4 linked regions of the Homo sapiens genome follow. The protein of the gene in region 2 purifies or fractionates together with the protein of the main gene of each other region. This does not show direct contact. Each region holds a gene or a part of one and is shown on either strand. Other genes may lie near its edges.

Region 1 (3,500 bases), about 80 Mb from region 2:
TTAATCTTTTATTTCATTGTTTATATATATACACACACACACCACACACACACATATATGTACATATGTATGTGGCATTCATTCATTAATTCATTTATTTATTTATTTAGAGATAGGGTCTCACTCTGTTACCCAAACTGGAATGCAGTGTCATGATCATGGGTCACTGCAGCAGCCTTGACTTCTTAGGCCCAAACAATCCTCCTACTGAGTAACTGGGACTGCAGGCGTGTGCCATTCTGCGTGGCTAATTTTTTCATTTTTTATAGAGATAGGGATCCCCCTATGTTGCCCAGGCTGGTCTCAAACTGCTGAGCTCAAGTGATCCTCCCTCCTTGGCCTCCCAAAGTGTTTGAATTACAGGAGTGAGTCAGTGTGTCCAGCCCTATTTCTTTGTTAAATGTTTTCTTTGTTGAAATGCTTGTGATGTAGAAAAACGGTCAGTAGGAAATACAAAACCTCAGCCTTTATTTTACTTGAAAATAGTTCTTCTATTTAGAAATATTTAAGCCACATATTTGTATATATGGAACTTCTGTTTGGAATTCCAGCAGATCACTTCAGAAAAATAAAATGAGGAAGCTATGTCACGCATCAGCATTTAAATGCTGCTTTCTGCAGAAGCAATGTCTACCTTTGGTAGTTTTTCTCTTGCTATTCCTGAAATCACTTTATCTTGTGGCTGATCAAGAGTCAAATTATTCTTTCTTGTTTCACTGTCTTCAAGCAGAGGAACACAGCCATAATTGTTATCTGCAAGACAAAAACCTCTTGGACATTAGCAGAAAACCCTTATTTTTGGTACCACCTGAAAAAGCAAAAAATAATACAAACTCAAAACCATAAAGAGAATACATTTTAAGGTAGGAGTTTTAGAAAATTCTTTAGGTAATAGTTACTTTGACAAGTTGTCCATTTATATTTTTTCCTTCCCACTAAACAAACACACAAAACCCCTGCTCTCCAAAAGCCAGCAGTATGTAAAATATGCAGAATTTAGAAAACTAGAAATATGCTCTTTGCATCTGTCAGCAACAATTCAACTTTTATATTCACATTTTCAGGTATGCGTTTCTTATTTAAGATAATTATTTGTATTATGACTCCATGCTTATTATGGGAAAATTAGAAAATGCAGACAGCCAAAAAGAATAAAAAGTAAATGCTACCCAAATTTTTATCACCTGTGAATTATTCCAGTTAATATTTTGGTTTATATATTCTATCAGAATTCTTCTTTTCCTATACATATAACTTCACACAAGAATCACCTTTTTCTGCATAAATGAAAAAAACACTTATTTATGTATCCTGCTTTGTTCATTTTGCTATATATCGTCCACATATTCTTACAAGTTAATACCTATTATCATCACTTTTCTTGGCTACATAGCTATTCATATAGATCAGTGTAACTACTGAATATTTGTTTCTAGCTTTCCATGATTAGACATTATACTGTGATACACATCCTCGCATATATATTTTTGAGTACCTGAACAAATATTTTCTTATGATATAGTCTTAGGACTTGAGTTTTTGGTTCAAAAGGCATAGATGTTTTCAAAAGCTTTTGCTGCTATTTACTGGCAAATTGCTTTTTAGGAAGTTTTATAAACTTAGAGTTCTACCATATAGTATAGTATATGTGAAAGTCCACTTTCCCATATCCTGCAAGTGTTCATTTAAATAAACATAACATATAACTGTACCACAGTTATAATATCAAAACTATTGAGAAACAACGAAGGAATAAAATAGAAAAACTCAACTTACACCTTTCTTTTCACCAAGAGGTTCTAGAAATACATAAAAAATTAACATGAACATACCTTGAGTGGAATTCACAAGAAGTAACTGAGATTTTAGCTTGTCAATAATAGTCTGTTGAAGTGACAGCTGTTCCTGTTGTTCACGTATTCTCTGCTCATAGTTCTCAGTCTGCTGACATAAAAACCAGTTAGCCTGATATTCACTGATAGACATGAACATATATTTACCATCCATTGATAATATAAATAGATATGAGTTGCCCACATTGTCATTTTGCAGGTATTGTGATTTATGAGATACAAACTGGCTCCAGGAATGTACTTGTAATTGTTACAAACATCAGTGATTCAAGACACTTAAAGCACCGCAGAAGTTTTAAAGATTAACTTATTTAAAGACATTTCAGTCAAGGATTCAATCTATGATTTCCTGATCCTTCAGTAAGGATCAAAACTGTAATTTAGCATTTATTCCTTAATGGAAAAAAAAAAGCACAAATGATACAACAGATGCTATATTAAAGTGATTCTTTAAAAATACATACTAACTTAAAAAATTAAGATTTTGTGTCTTTCAAATAAACACACTTCTAAATTTATTTTTAGAGTACACAAACACTAAGGAAGTGTTGATACAAATCAAAGGGACAAATGCAAATTATAAAATTATACTGACCAGAAACTTCTCCACTAAGTTTTAAGAAATTAAGAGAATATAGTTGACCTTTGGTGTCTTAAATGCCAGTTTCCCTTATATTGTTAATCCATTAATTTTGCTATGTTATTGCAGTGACTGTGAGAATAAAGCAATGAAAAAAGACACAAGTTTGTACTGAGGAATACAGATGCTGCAAACATTCAAGCAAATTTGAAACTGTTGTATCACAATTACCAAATTAGTACAGTCTTAAAAGCGTATCACCAAACAATAGCAGAGAACTCTTTTTTTAACCAATTTCTATCCCTGGAGGGATAAATAAATAATGACTAAGTTGCAAATTCCTTGAAATATAAAATGAAAATGAAGTTCTAATAATCTCAGAATGATCTTCAGTAGATACTAGATATTTCACTTTAAACTGATTCTTAAAGTTCAAAATTAGTGAAGCTCTATTATTTTCAGAGACCAATAAACTTAAAAATTTTAATAAATTACATAGCTGTTCATAGATTAGCAAATATAAATTAGCTTAAGAAATTAAAGCTTGGGAGGCTGAGGTAGGTGGATCACGAGGTCAGGAGATTGAGACCATCCTGGTTAACACAGTGAAACCCCATCTCCACTAAAAATACAAAAAATTAGCCAGGCGTGGTGGCAGGCACCTGTAGTCCCAGCTACTTGGGAGGCTGAGGCAGGAGAATGATGTGAACCCGGGAGGCGGAGCTTGCAGTGAGCCAAGATCACACCACTGCACTCCAGCCTGGGCAACAGATCCAGACTCTGTCTCAAAAAAAAAAAAAAAAAAAAAAAAAGAAATTAGAGCTAAATACTACATTTTCCCAAATGAAAGGTGAACTTTTATAAGTAATACACTCCAAATATGAATAACTGACAAAGCTGATAAGCAACCCATGTGGTACATTGTCTTTGCACATTGCCTAAAGGCAGTCTTACATAGTTTCACATTCCCCACAGAATTCATATGGATTAAGTAACTTATACATAGGAGATGTTCAGTATATGTTCACTGAAAAATTAAAAAAGGAAATACGGATTCCAATTACATT
Region 2 (3,500 bases):
AAAAAAAGAAGAGACAAAAATATGAAAAATCTTTACTAGAAAGTAGGTGGCAAAGTAGTGGCTTCTGTTTTTCAGGAGCAATCTCTCCTTGTTTAAGATTAGTGATGGAGTTACTTCAAAATGCAAAATATTAATGAGGCTTAAGGAGGAACCTGTCATATTTAAGCTGACACAATGTTAGTAACTGCCTGTCTTCCAGGCTAAGGGACAACAGGGCCTACCTCTGACTTCTTGATATGTGCACATCACCTTACACGTGGTGCCCGAGAGCCCCGCCATCGCCATCCCCGCCCTGCATCTGCATCTGCATCTGCGCCTGCATCCTTGCAATCATCTCTTGCATGCGGCGGAGCTGTGAACACACACACACATTATAGGTTTTCAAGGTTTGCTGTCTTTGAACATTATTTCTGGGTGTTCTGTGATTCCTAAAATTTCAACTTCTACACCTTCCCAAAATATGACAGGAGTTATTACATAAAGACTTTTTACCAATCAATAAAAAAAGCAACAGCTAAAGAGAAAATCAAGTAAATGATACGAATATGCAAGCCAAACAGAAACAATAACCAAAGAAAGATAAGACAATATGATAAATTTTCTTAAGACAGAGTCTCACTCTGTCTCCTAGGCTGGAGTGCAGTGGCGCAATCTCGGCTCACTGCTACCTCCGCCTCCCGGGTTCAAGCGATTCTCCTGCCTCAGCCTCCTGAGTAGCTGGGATTACAGGCACACACCACCACGCCCAGCTGATTTTTGTATTTTCAGTAGAGACGGGGTTTCACCACATTGGTCAGGCTGGTCTCAAACTCCTGACCTCGTGATCCACCCGCCTCCGCCTCCCAAAGTGCTGGGATTACAAGCGTGAGCCACCGCGCCCGGCCAATATGAGAAGTTTTCTAACCTAAAAGGAGGGAAAGAGACTGATGACAGTGAGAAATGCAAAGTAAAGGGGAATGGGAATGAATCAGCTTTTCTGGAGGGCAATGAAGGCCTCACAATAAAAATAATATATATACATACATATACATATATATATATTTTTTTTTTTTTAAAGGGATGGGATCTTGCTCTTTCACCTAGGCTAGACTGCAGTGGCACAATCATAGCTCACTGCATCCTTGAACTCCTGGGCTCAGGGGATCCTTCTGCCTCAGCCTCCCGAGTAGCTGGGACTACAGGTGCATGCCGACATGCATGGCTAATTATTTTTTAATTTTTTTCTAGAGAACGAGGGGGGTCTCACTCTGTTGCCCTAGCTGGTCTTAAACTCCTGGCATGAAGTGATTCTCCCACCTTGGCCTCCTAAAGTGCTGGGACTATAAGTGTAACCCACAGTGCCTGGCCAAAAATAGTAAATGTTAATTCATCTTTATCCTTATCATTATGATTTGTATGTGTTCAGAAATGCCTCCAGGAAAGTATTATAAAACATTTAAATTTTCTTCAGGTGACTTTGTGGTTATTTTTAACATTTAAATATTTGATCAATATTGAATTAATTTGACCAAAGAAGTATTTTCTTTTTGTTTCCAAAAGGCTAGCCCATTATGATCCTATTGTTTACTGAATAATGTGTTTGCCTTCCAAAACTCCAGCAGATCTGAATGCCACCTTTACAACAGAGCATATTTCCATATTTATGATCTACTTACAAATATCAGTGACATTACTAAATTGTCTCCAAAGTCTTTCAGCTAAATATATGAAGCATCATGTATGCTATGTAAATATCCATGTTTATTATTATATATAGATGTGTATATATAGTAATAAAGTAGTTATATGTATCCTCCTCAACAAATTAAAAAAAAAACTATAAACTTTAAGTTAATTACCAATGATATCTACGGATGTAAACAAAACACCTTCAGTCACAAGAATAGTACTTTTTGGCTGGGCACGGTGGCTCACACCTGTAATCCCAGCACTTTGGGAGGCCAAGGTGGGCAGATCACCTGAGGTTAGGAGTTCGAGACCAGCCTGGCCAACATGATGAAACCCCGTCTCTACTAAAAATACAAAAACAACTAGCCAGGCATGGTGGCGGGCACCTGTAGTCCCAGCTACTCGGGAGGCTGAGGCAGGAGAATCACTTGAACCCGGGAGGCAGAGGTTGCAGTGAGCCGAGATCACGCCACTGCACTCCAGCCTGGGCAATGGTGCAAAACTCTGTCTCAAAACAAACAAAACAACCAACCAACCAACCAACCAATAGTACTTTCCTACTTACCTCAGCTTCTTTTTCCAGCAAGATCTGGTCTTTATTCATGTCCTCATTCTCCACTTTCCTAAGAATCGAAAGAAATCAGAATCATAACACTGCAACAAATAGTTATTTGCTACCCCCCCAAAAAATTCTACTTTAAAATTTAAAATGACATGTATTTATCATTTCTCTTTTTATATTGAGATGGTGTCTCACTCTGTCGCACGGGCTGGAGTGTAGTGGCATGATCTTGGCTCACTGCAACCTCCACCTCCTAGGTTCAAGCAATTCTCCCACCTTAGCCTCCTGGGTAACTGGCATTACAGGCACGTGCTACCACGCCCAGCTAATTTTTTTTGTGTTTAGTAGAGATGGGGTTTTGCCACGTTGGCCAGGCTGGTGTTGAACCTCAAGTGATCCGCCCACCTTGGCCTCCCAAAGTGCTGGGAATACAGGCATGAGCCACCACGCCCAGCCTATCATTTTTCTAATTAAAGATATAATGAATAAAAAGGGAACAGAATGATTTTAAAAAGTTCGAACAACATGAAATGGAACATTCAAGAGACTTTTCTTACTCTAAGCTTGAGCGACAACACTTGCTGTTACCCACTCAAAAATAGGTATTATCTGAAGAATTTGCTTTGAGATGTTATTCTTTATTAATGCGAATGTAGTCACCACATTTAAGGAGCAGGATCTGCGTGAGTGAACGAGGGGCAAAGGGTAAGCTCCCCAAGCACACCTGAGAACTGTGCTCTGCAAAGCACACTAATCTCCATCTCAGGGCCAGCGCCTACTCAGCTTCCAGAGGGTGGAATTTTCTTGCTGCCTCTAAAATCTTTCTTAATGTCTCATTTCCAAACTCATAATTAGACTTCAATGTGTACAACATATGTATCTAGAAATCCATCAAATTATTAGAATGTGAGAATTTTAATGAATTACAACACAGGAAACTTTTGTTGTTGAGACAGGGTCTCACTCTGTTGCCCAGTCTGGAGCGTGGTGGTGCGACCATAGCTCACTGCAGCCTGGACCTACTGGGCTCAAGGAATCCTCCCCCTAGTAGCTGGGACCACAGGCATGCACCACCACATCTGGCTAATTTAAAAAAAATTTTTATAGAGGCGAGGTCTCCCTATGTTGCCAGGGCCGGTCTCAAACTACTGGGTTCAAGTGATCCACTTGCCTTGGCCTCCCAGAAAACTTATATAAAAACATATTAGAATGGTTAAAAAGAAAAGGTGAGTGAGGATGGCTGCAGGACTTTGCGAGGATCGAAGCTGCT
Region 3 (3,500 bases), on a different chromosome or scaffold from region 2:
CCCCATCTCTACTAAAAATACAAAAAATTAGATGGGTGTGGTGGCACGCGCCTGTAGTCCCAGCTACTCGGGAGGCTGAGACAGGAGAATCACTTGAACCTGGGAGGTGGAAGTTGCAGTGAGCCAAGATGGCGCCACTGCACTGCAGCCTGGGCGACAGAGTGAGACTGTCTCAAAAAAAAAAAAAAAAAGAGGTGGCACTTGAACTGGGGCTCAAAGAGTGATTTAAGGTGTCAGAAGGAGAGTAAGGTCATGATAATTTTGTGAAATGAAATAGGCTTTGGCAGGTTTATATCTTAGAGTGTGTGTAGTAGGGTGATCATTATAGTTGTGTAGTAACCTATTGTAATATTCTAATGGGAAGCTCAATATGTGGACTTAATTCCCTGAATGAGGCCACTGCTGAAAAACTTTGAGCCAGTGGTTTGATCATAGCTGTAACTTAGAGCAGAATATTGATGCCTATAGTTTTTTCCTTTTTTTTTTTCTTTTTTGTTAGATACCCAAGTTCTTCGATGGATCTAGGATGCCTTTAGTTTTGTTAGTATGTTAGACTTTTGGTAATACAAAATGTACAGTCTTTTAGGAAAACTGCAGCTTGTATTTTTCTTCTTACAGATAAGGCTCAATTACTTGAAATAGCCAAAGCTAATGCAGCTGCCATGTGTGCTAAGGCTGGTGTCCCTTTACCACCAAACCTAAAGCCTGCACCTCCACCTACTATAGAAGAGAAAGTTGCTAAAAAGTCAGGAGGAGCTACTATAGAAGAACTAACTGAGGTAAGCTAGACAGAATTTGTTTTCATTCTTAAATGGATTATTCCAGTGATGTTGACTCTGGAGCGTGCCAAAACCCGAATTGTGGGCAGAACTGATAATGGCTGGCACCGAGTGGCCAAAACCCGAAATACAGATGTGGCAGCGGCAGAAGCTCTGTTTAGCAGGCCATTATCCGGGATGGCTAAGCTCCGCTAGCTAAAAGTTACTTCCCATTACTTTTGCTTTCCAGTTTTAGAAGCCAAACTGACTGAGGAGTGGGACGGTTCGTTTGAATGGAGGAGGTGTTGAGTGAGCAACACGCAGAAGCTCGCCTACAGTTTCGTTTCCATTCACGACGCGTTCACTGATCGCCACGAGTATACTGCATATACGCAAAGACACAGACAATCTTCAGAAATGATCTTTTGCCACCGGAGCTTGGAAATTAATAAGAATAGCTGGCCATTGCCTGAAAGGAACTTCTTTCGCATCAACATTTCGGGTTTTGGCTGTTTGGTACCAGCCATTGGCGATAATGGCCGGCCATTATCAGTTCTTCCTGCGGTTCGGGTTTTGGCAGTAACATATATATTTTAAACACACTTATTTTTGTTTTTAAAAGTTTGATCTTTTCAATTGAGGCTTTTTTGGGGCTTTGTTTTATTACTATTTTTTTGGTGTGGGTGGATGGGGGGAGATGCTAAAATATTGCTGCTAGGATCCAGAAATACCACACTGTTTCATATATTGGAACTTGTTATTGGCTAGCCTTATGCCAGCCTGCCACTGTCAATATATTCTGTTCCCCTTGGTTACAAGCTTAATATACTCTTGTGTTTTTGGCGAAATGAGCTTTTTATCCTATTGTAATATTTTCAATTGATAATAGATGTCATTAAATCTACTGCTTGTATAGAGACAGGTGTACCCAAATTTACTCTTGACCTTTTTATAAAGCCAGGTAATGGAGTCTGTTCCTTTGCATCTCAGGAAGGAATTGACTTTGCTTTATGTATCAGACCTCATCAATTGCACCCTCTCCATCATGCCTTATTTTCCTAAGTTCTCCTTAAAGAAACTCAACCCACAAAACATTTATGGAGAGACATGTTGCTATCTAATCCTGTTGCAAATATTTCAGATCTTTTGTTTTGCCATACATCTGGGAAAATGTAAAGCTTCTGAATCTGTTTCCTCACTTAGATTTATTACAATATGAATTACAACTTTTTTTAAAAAATTAAGGACCTTGTAAACGCTTCTATTGCTTATTTACCTAATCCAAGCTCCTTATCCAAAATGCTAAGGACAGTTAGTATTTTGCTGTTTTCGGCCCCATCTTCAGCCTTCTTGTCCCAAGTTTCTTCTCACCTTTTTACCACCACCTGACTAGGATGACTTCTCCTTTCCCTACCAGTCTTTGTTCTTTACTATGAAAATCTGGCTTAGAACTCTTCAAGGAATATTCCTTGATTCTCTAACTCTGCCTGACTATTCTCTCTTAAGCCTTTGTTCTTTTAGCACTTATGTACTCAGTTTGTATTATATCAGTTTGCACTTGTTATTGTGTTGCTCTGTAAAAGTGTTCAATTATTTCATGTATATGTATTCCTTCTCTTGTACTAGATTGTAAGCTCCTTGAGAGCAGGGACCATGTCTTCTACTTTTTTTTTTTTTTTTTTTTTTTGTATTCCCCAGACAGTGCCCAGTACAGTGCTCTCTCTGCACATAGTAGGTGCTCAATAAATGTTGTTGACTGACTGACCAGCCAGAGTGTGTTTAAATAGTAGTTAATATGCCAAGTTACGTATCTATAACCTATCATGAATCTTGTTTAACTTTGGAAAGTTGCTATTATGTGGTTTTGATTCTAAGAAATTACATGTTCTACATAAAGCGTAAGATTTATCTTTTGTTTGTTTTTACTTTTAAAGAAATGTAAACAGATCGCACAGAGTAAAGAAGATGATGATGTAATAGTGAATAAACCTCATGTTTCGGATGAAGAGGAAGAAGAACCTCCTTTTTATCATCATCCCTTTAAACTCAGTGAACCCAAACCTATTTTTTTCAATCTGAATGTGAGTATTAGTGCTTATGGATTGGTAAAACAGTGTAACTTGTGGAACTATTTAAATAAAACCCAAATCGAATTTAGTTTATTAATTTTTGTTTTAAATACTGTGAGAAATAATGGATAATATCATTTCCTTCAGATTATGTAGAAAATCTCAAACCATTTAATGTAGATATCATATTGAGCTTTAATTAAGAAACACTTTATTTTTTAGATTGCTGCAGCAAAACCAACTCCACCAAAAAGCCAGGTAACATTAACAAAAGAATTCCCTGTATCATCTGGATCTCAACATCGGAAAAAAGAAGCGGATAGTGTTTATGGAGAATGGGTTCCTGTGGAGAAAAATGGTGAAGAAAACAAAGATGATGATAATGTTTTCAGCAGCAATTTGCCCTCAGAGGTAAGTAGGAGGAATATTATGTATTTTTCCTTTTTTATACCTGAATCTGCCATTTCATTGTTATGTTATGTCTGATTTGGATTCTGTTTCACTCTTCTTAGGGCCGGGTTAAACGGCAGGGCCGGGTTAGACGACAGATGAAACAACCCGCAGCTTCTCATTTGACAGTAACTCGATGCAATTCACTTTGTGGAACCAAGCCACAAAGTGAAAAGCATCGAATTGCAGAGAACAGTGTTATCACATCCCTACCCAACATTGG
Region 4 (3,500 bases), on a different chromosome or scaffold from region 2:
CCTAAAGACAAGAGAGCAGAGAAAGCAGAATGGTGTTTAGAGACCATCGCAGTGACCTGATCCTGAAAGCACCTGTAGGAAATTGGCCTCCGCCAAGTGAATGTGACAATGCAGTCAGCCACAGTGACGGAGTGCAAGATCGGATCACCACACAGATCCAAGAGACCGCTCACCACACCTGAGAAACAAGAACCCAAGACAGCCTCATGGAGGTGGAACCGTGCTACGCAGTTATGGCTTCACTACTGAATGCGATCTTGCAAAAGTGATTTAACCTCTGTGAGCCTCAGTTTCCTCATCTGTAAAATGAGTGAAGATTAAATAAGACAACACACAAAAGCCCTTCAAACATTTATACAGTAAATGTTAGTTTTCTTCTCCCTACTTAGAGGAGAGATAAGAAAGCGTTCTAATAGTAGAATCTGGAATTGAATAAAACCTTAAGAGACAAACCTTTTTTATTTTTTTTTTAAGACAGGTTCTTGCTCTGTTGCCCAGGCTAGAGTACAGTGGTGTGATCCAACCTCCACCTCCTGGGGCTCAAGTGATCCTTCCATCTCAGCTCCCCAACCCCAGTAGCTAGGACTACAGTTGCACATCATCATGCCTGGCTAATTTTTTTATTTTTGTAGAGGTAGGGTTTCGCTATGTTGCCCTGGCTGGTCTTGAACTCCTGGGCTCAAGTGATTCACCTGCCTCAGCCTCTCAAAGTGCTGGGATTATAGGCATGAGCCACTGTGTCCGACCCAAACCTACTAATGTTAATAGAAATTTGTTAACTGCCTTAGGTACAATAATGGGATTGTGGTTATAAGGGAGAATGCCTCTATTCTTCAGAGAGGCACACAGATTTACTTGCTTTTAAATGGTCTAGCAAAAATAAAAACAAATCCACTCATAAAACTAATATGACAAAGTAGATGGTTCTATAGGTGTTCAATGCATCATCCTTTCAATTTTCTAAATATTTGAAATTTTCTTAATAAAAAGATAGGGAAACAAAGGTGGCTTGGAGGAAACAAAAACAAAAACAAAAACAAAACAAGAAGATCCAGTCTAATGGAAAGATGCAATGGACTCAGGGATCCTGCAGCCAAAGGCTCTGCTTGACCAAGAGCCCCTGGCTGCGCTTAGAACTGCTTTTCCACACAGACATATGAATGAGACTGGCTGGGCCTGGTGGCTCATGTCTGTAATCCCAGTACTTCGGTAGGCCGAAGTGGGTGGTTCACCTGAGGTCAAGAGTACCAGACCAGCCTGACCAACATGGTGAAAGGCTGTTTCTACTAAAAAAAAAAAAAAAAAAAAAAAAAATTAGCAGGACATGGTAGTGTATGCCTGTAATCCCAGCTACCTGAGAGGCTGAGGCAGGAGAATCGCTTGAACCTGGGTGGCAGAGGTTGCGGGGAGCCAAGATTGCACCATCGCACTCCAGCCTGGGTGACAGAGTAAGACTCTGTTTCAAAAAAAAAAAAAAAAGAGACTGATGGCAAAGTGGGATGGGTCCAGGCCCGGATGAGGGAAAACTTCCTCTGCGTTTGCTGAAGCATAGGAACTATTCTAACAGGAAGAAAAGATACAGGGAAACCAGTATCAGGTACTTCCCAAATATCAAAAGCAAAGACGTAGCCATGGAACACTGCATATGCATGTGAGGAAGCACCGAGAGTCTGGGATTACTTGAGGACAGGATCAGATTGCAATGAGGGAGGCAGTGGCAGGAGGTGGGACATGAGATGCCCAAGAGGGTCGGGTCATGAAGAGCCTCAGGTGCACTGTTACAGAACCGGACCTTCAGAGCCATGGGAGCATTTTAAGCCAACAAGTGACATTATCAGATTTAGTTTTAAGATATCATCCTGGCTGCAGAACACAGAAAATATGTTAAACTACAAGAATGGGTGAGCTCTCCAAGGAAAGCATGTAGAAGAAAAGAACAGGTCAAAGACAGAGCCTTGGGCAACATCGACACACAAGGAGCTGGGCAGAGGAGTCAGGGAAGGAGATGAGAAAAGGACTAACCAGGAGGCCTGATGACCAGCATGGGTGGTGTCACAGAAGCCAGAGGAGGGTCAATGGGGGCAGAAGAAAAACAGCAGAACATGAAGGCAAGGGCTAAAAAGCATCACATATGTTATCCGTATTGAGGCGAATGGCCTCTCTTACTAGTTTCAACGGCATGGCAAGGGTGGGGGGCTGGATTCCAATGGGTTGTAGCAATAAATGATTGTGGGGTGGGGGGGTTTCAAGAAGTGCAGCCAGTGCGTATACATGCCACTGAAGTCACCTGGCTACAGAGGGAAGGACAGTGTGTCGTGCCAGAAGAGAATATGGAGTTAAGGGTTTTTTGAGTTGTTTGTTTGTTTGTTGAGACGGAGTCTTGCTCTGTTGCCCAGGCTGGAGTGCAGTGGCGCGATCTCGGCTCACTGCAAGCTCCACCTCCCGGGTTCACACCATTCTCCTGCCTCAGCCTCCCAAGTAGCTGGGACTACAGGCGTGAGCCACTGCACCTGGCCGAGTTTGTTTTTTTTTTTTGTTTTGGCTTTTTTTTGAGGTGGAGTCTCACTTTGTCACCCAGGCTGGAGTGCAGTAGTGCAATCTCGGCTCACTGCAACCTCCACCTCCCACGTTCAAGTGATTCTCCTGCCTCAGCCTCCTGAGTAGCTGGGATTATAGGTGTGCACCACCATGTCCGGCTGATTTTTGTGTTTTTAGGAGAGATGGGGTTTCACCACGTTGGCCAGGCTAGTCTCAAACTCCTGACCTCTGGTGATCCTCCCACCTTGGCCTCCCAAAGTGCTGGGATTACAAGCGTGAGCCACCACACCCAGCCTTGAGTTTGTTTTTTGCTTTGCTATAGATCTTAGAGAAACTGGTGCTTGTCTAGAGGGGGAGGCTGCAGATTTGAAGAGAGAGATGTAAATGATGAGGCAAAGTCCCAGAGGACATGTAAGGGAAGAGATTTGGCTTTAAACAGAAGGAAGGACCTTTGTTGCAGTCCGGAAGGATAAAAGCAGATGAAGATAACTTTTTAAGTGGAGGACAGGAAACTGACATAATCATATCTGATGAATTTAATATTCTCAATAAAACAGGAGACAAGACCTTCTGCTTAAATGAGGGGATGGGATTGGATAGCAAACTTAAAGAGAAGAGTAAAGTCTTAGAACAGCTTAAAGGGAGTGAGATGGAAAGGTAAATAAGAGGACTGTTGAACAACCTTGAAAGCACACCTGCAGTTGAAGACTGTACATCTGTTACATTTTTCTGGAAAACCCCACACATGTCTATTTCAACTTTCCTTTAATTCCAACTTTTCACGAAGAATTGAGAAAGGTGTAGTGGTTATTACTGTGTAGTTTCACTATTTTCTACATCTCCCAAATACCCACTTATAGAAGTAGAGAAAAGGAATTGTATAACAAGGGACTGGGACATTATAGCAGCGGGAAGTGGGCAAGGGGCTTTGGGGTGTTGGTAAGAGGTAACCAACCACACAC

What was found.
Region 1: the proteins of SEPTIN2 (region 2) and TANK purify together in Homo sapiens (affinity purification with mass spectrometry; one large-scale study listed by BioGRID and IntAct). This does not show direct contact.
Region 3: the proteins of SEPTIN2 (region 2) and SON fractionate together in Homo sapiens (co-fractionation; one large-scale study listed by BioGRID). This does not show direct contact.
Region 4: the proteins of SEPTIN2 (region 2) and RNPEP purify together in Homo sapiens (affinity purification with mass spectrometry; one large-scale study listed by BioGRID and IntAct). This does not show direct contact.

Annotation. Positions count from the first base shown.
Region 1 is NC_000002.12:161,201,928-161,205,427, reverse strand, and holds part of TANK (TRAF family member-associated NF-kappa-B activator), read right to left. Parts: intron 1,942-3,500; coding exon 1,833-1,941; intron 754-1,832; coding exon 635-753; coding exon of another isoform or gene 602-634; exon of another isoform or gene 452-601; intron 1-451.
Region 2 is NC_000002.12:241,346,925-241,350,424, reverse strand, and holds part of SEPTIN2 (septin-2), read right to left. Parts: intron 2,292-3,500; coding exon 2,234-2,291; intron 353-2,233; coding exon 251-352; 3' UTR 222-250; intron 1-221.
Region 3 is NC_000021.9:33,556,538-33,560,037, forward strand, and holds part of SON (protein SON), read left to right. Parts: intron 1-618; coding exon 619-779; intron 780-1,008; coding exon of another isoform or gene 1,009-1,014; exon of another isoform or gene 1,015-2,529; intron 2,530-2,692; coding exon 2,693-2,839; intron 2,840-3,049; coding exon 3,050-3,238; intron 3,239-3,339; coding exon of another isoform or gene 3,340-3,500. UniProt on the Homo sapiens protein: RNA-binding protein that acts as a mRNA splicing cofactor by promoting efficient splicing of transcripts that possess weak splice sites.
Region 4 is NC_000001.11:201,992,648-201,996,147, reverse strand, and holds part of RNPEP (aminopeptidase B), read right to left. Parts: intron 2-3,500; coding exon 1-1. UniProt on the Homo sapiens protein: Exopeptidase which selectively removes arginine and/or lysine residues from the N-terminus of several peptide substrates including Arg(0)-Leu-enkephalin, Arg(0)-Met-enkephalin and Arg(-1)-Lys(0)-somatostatin-14.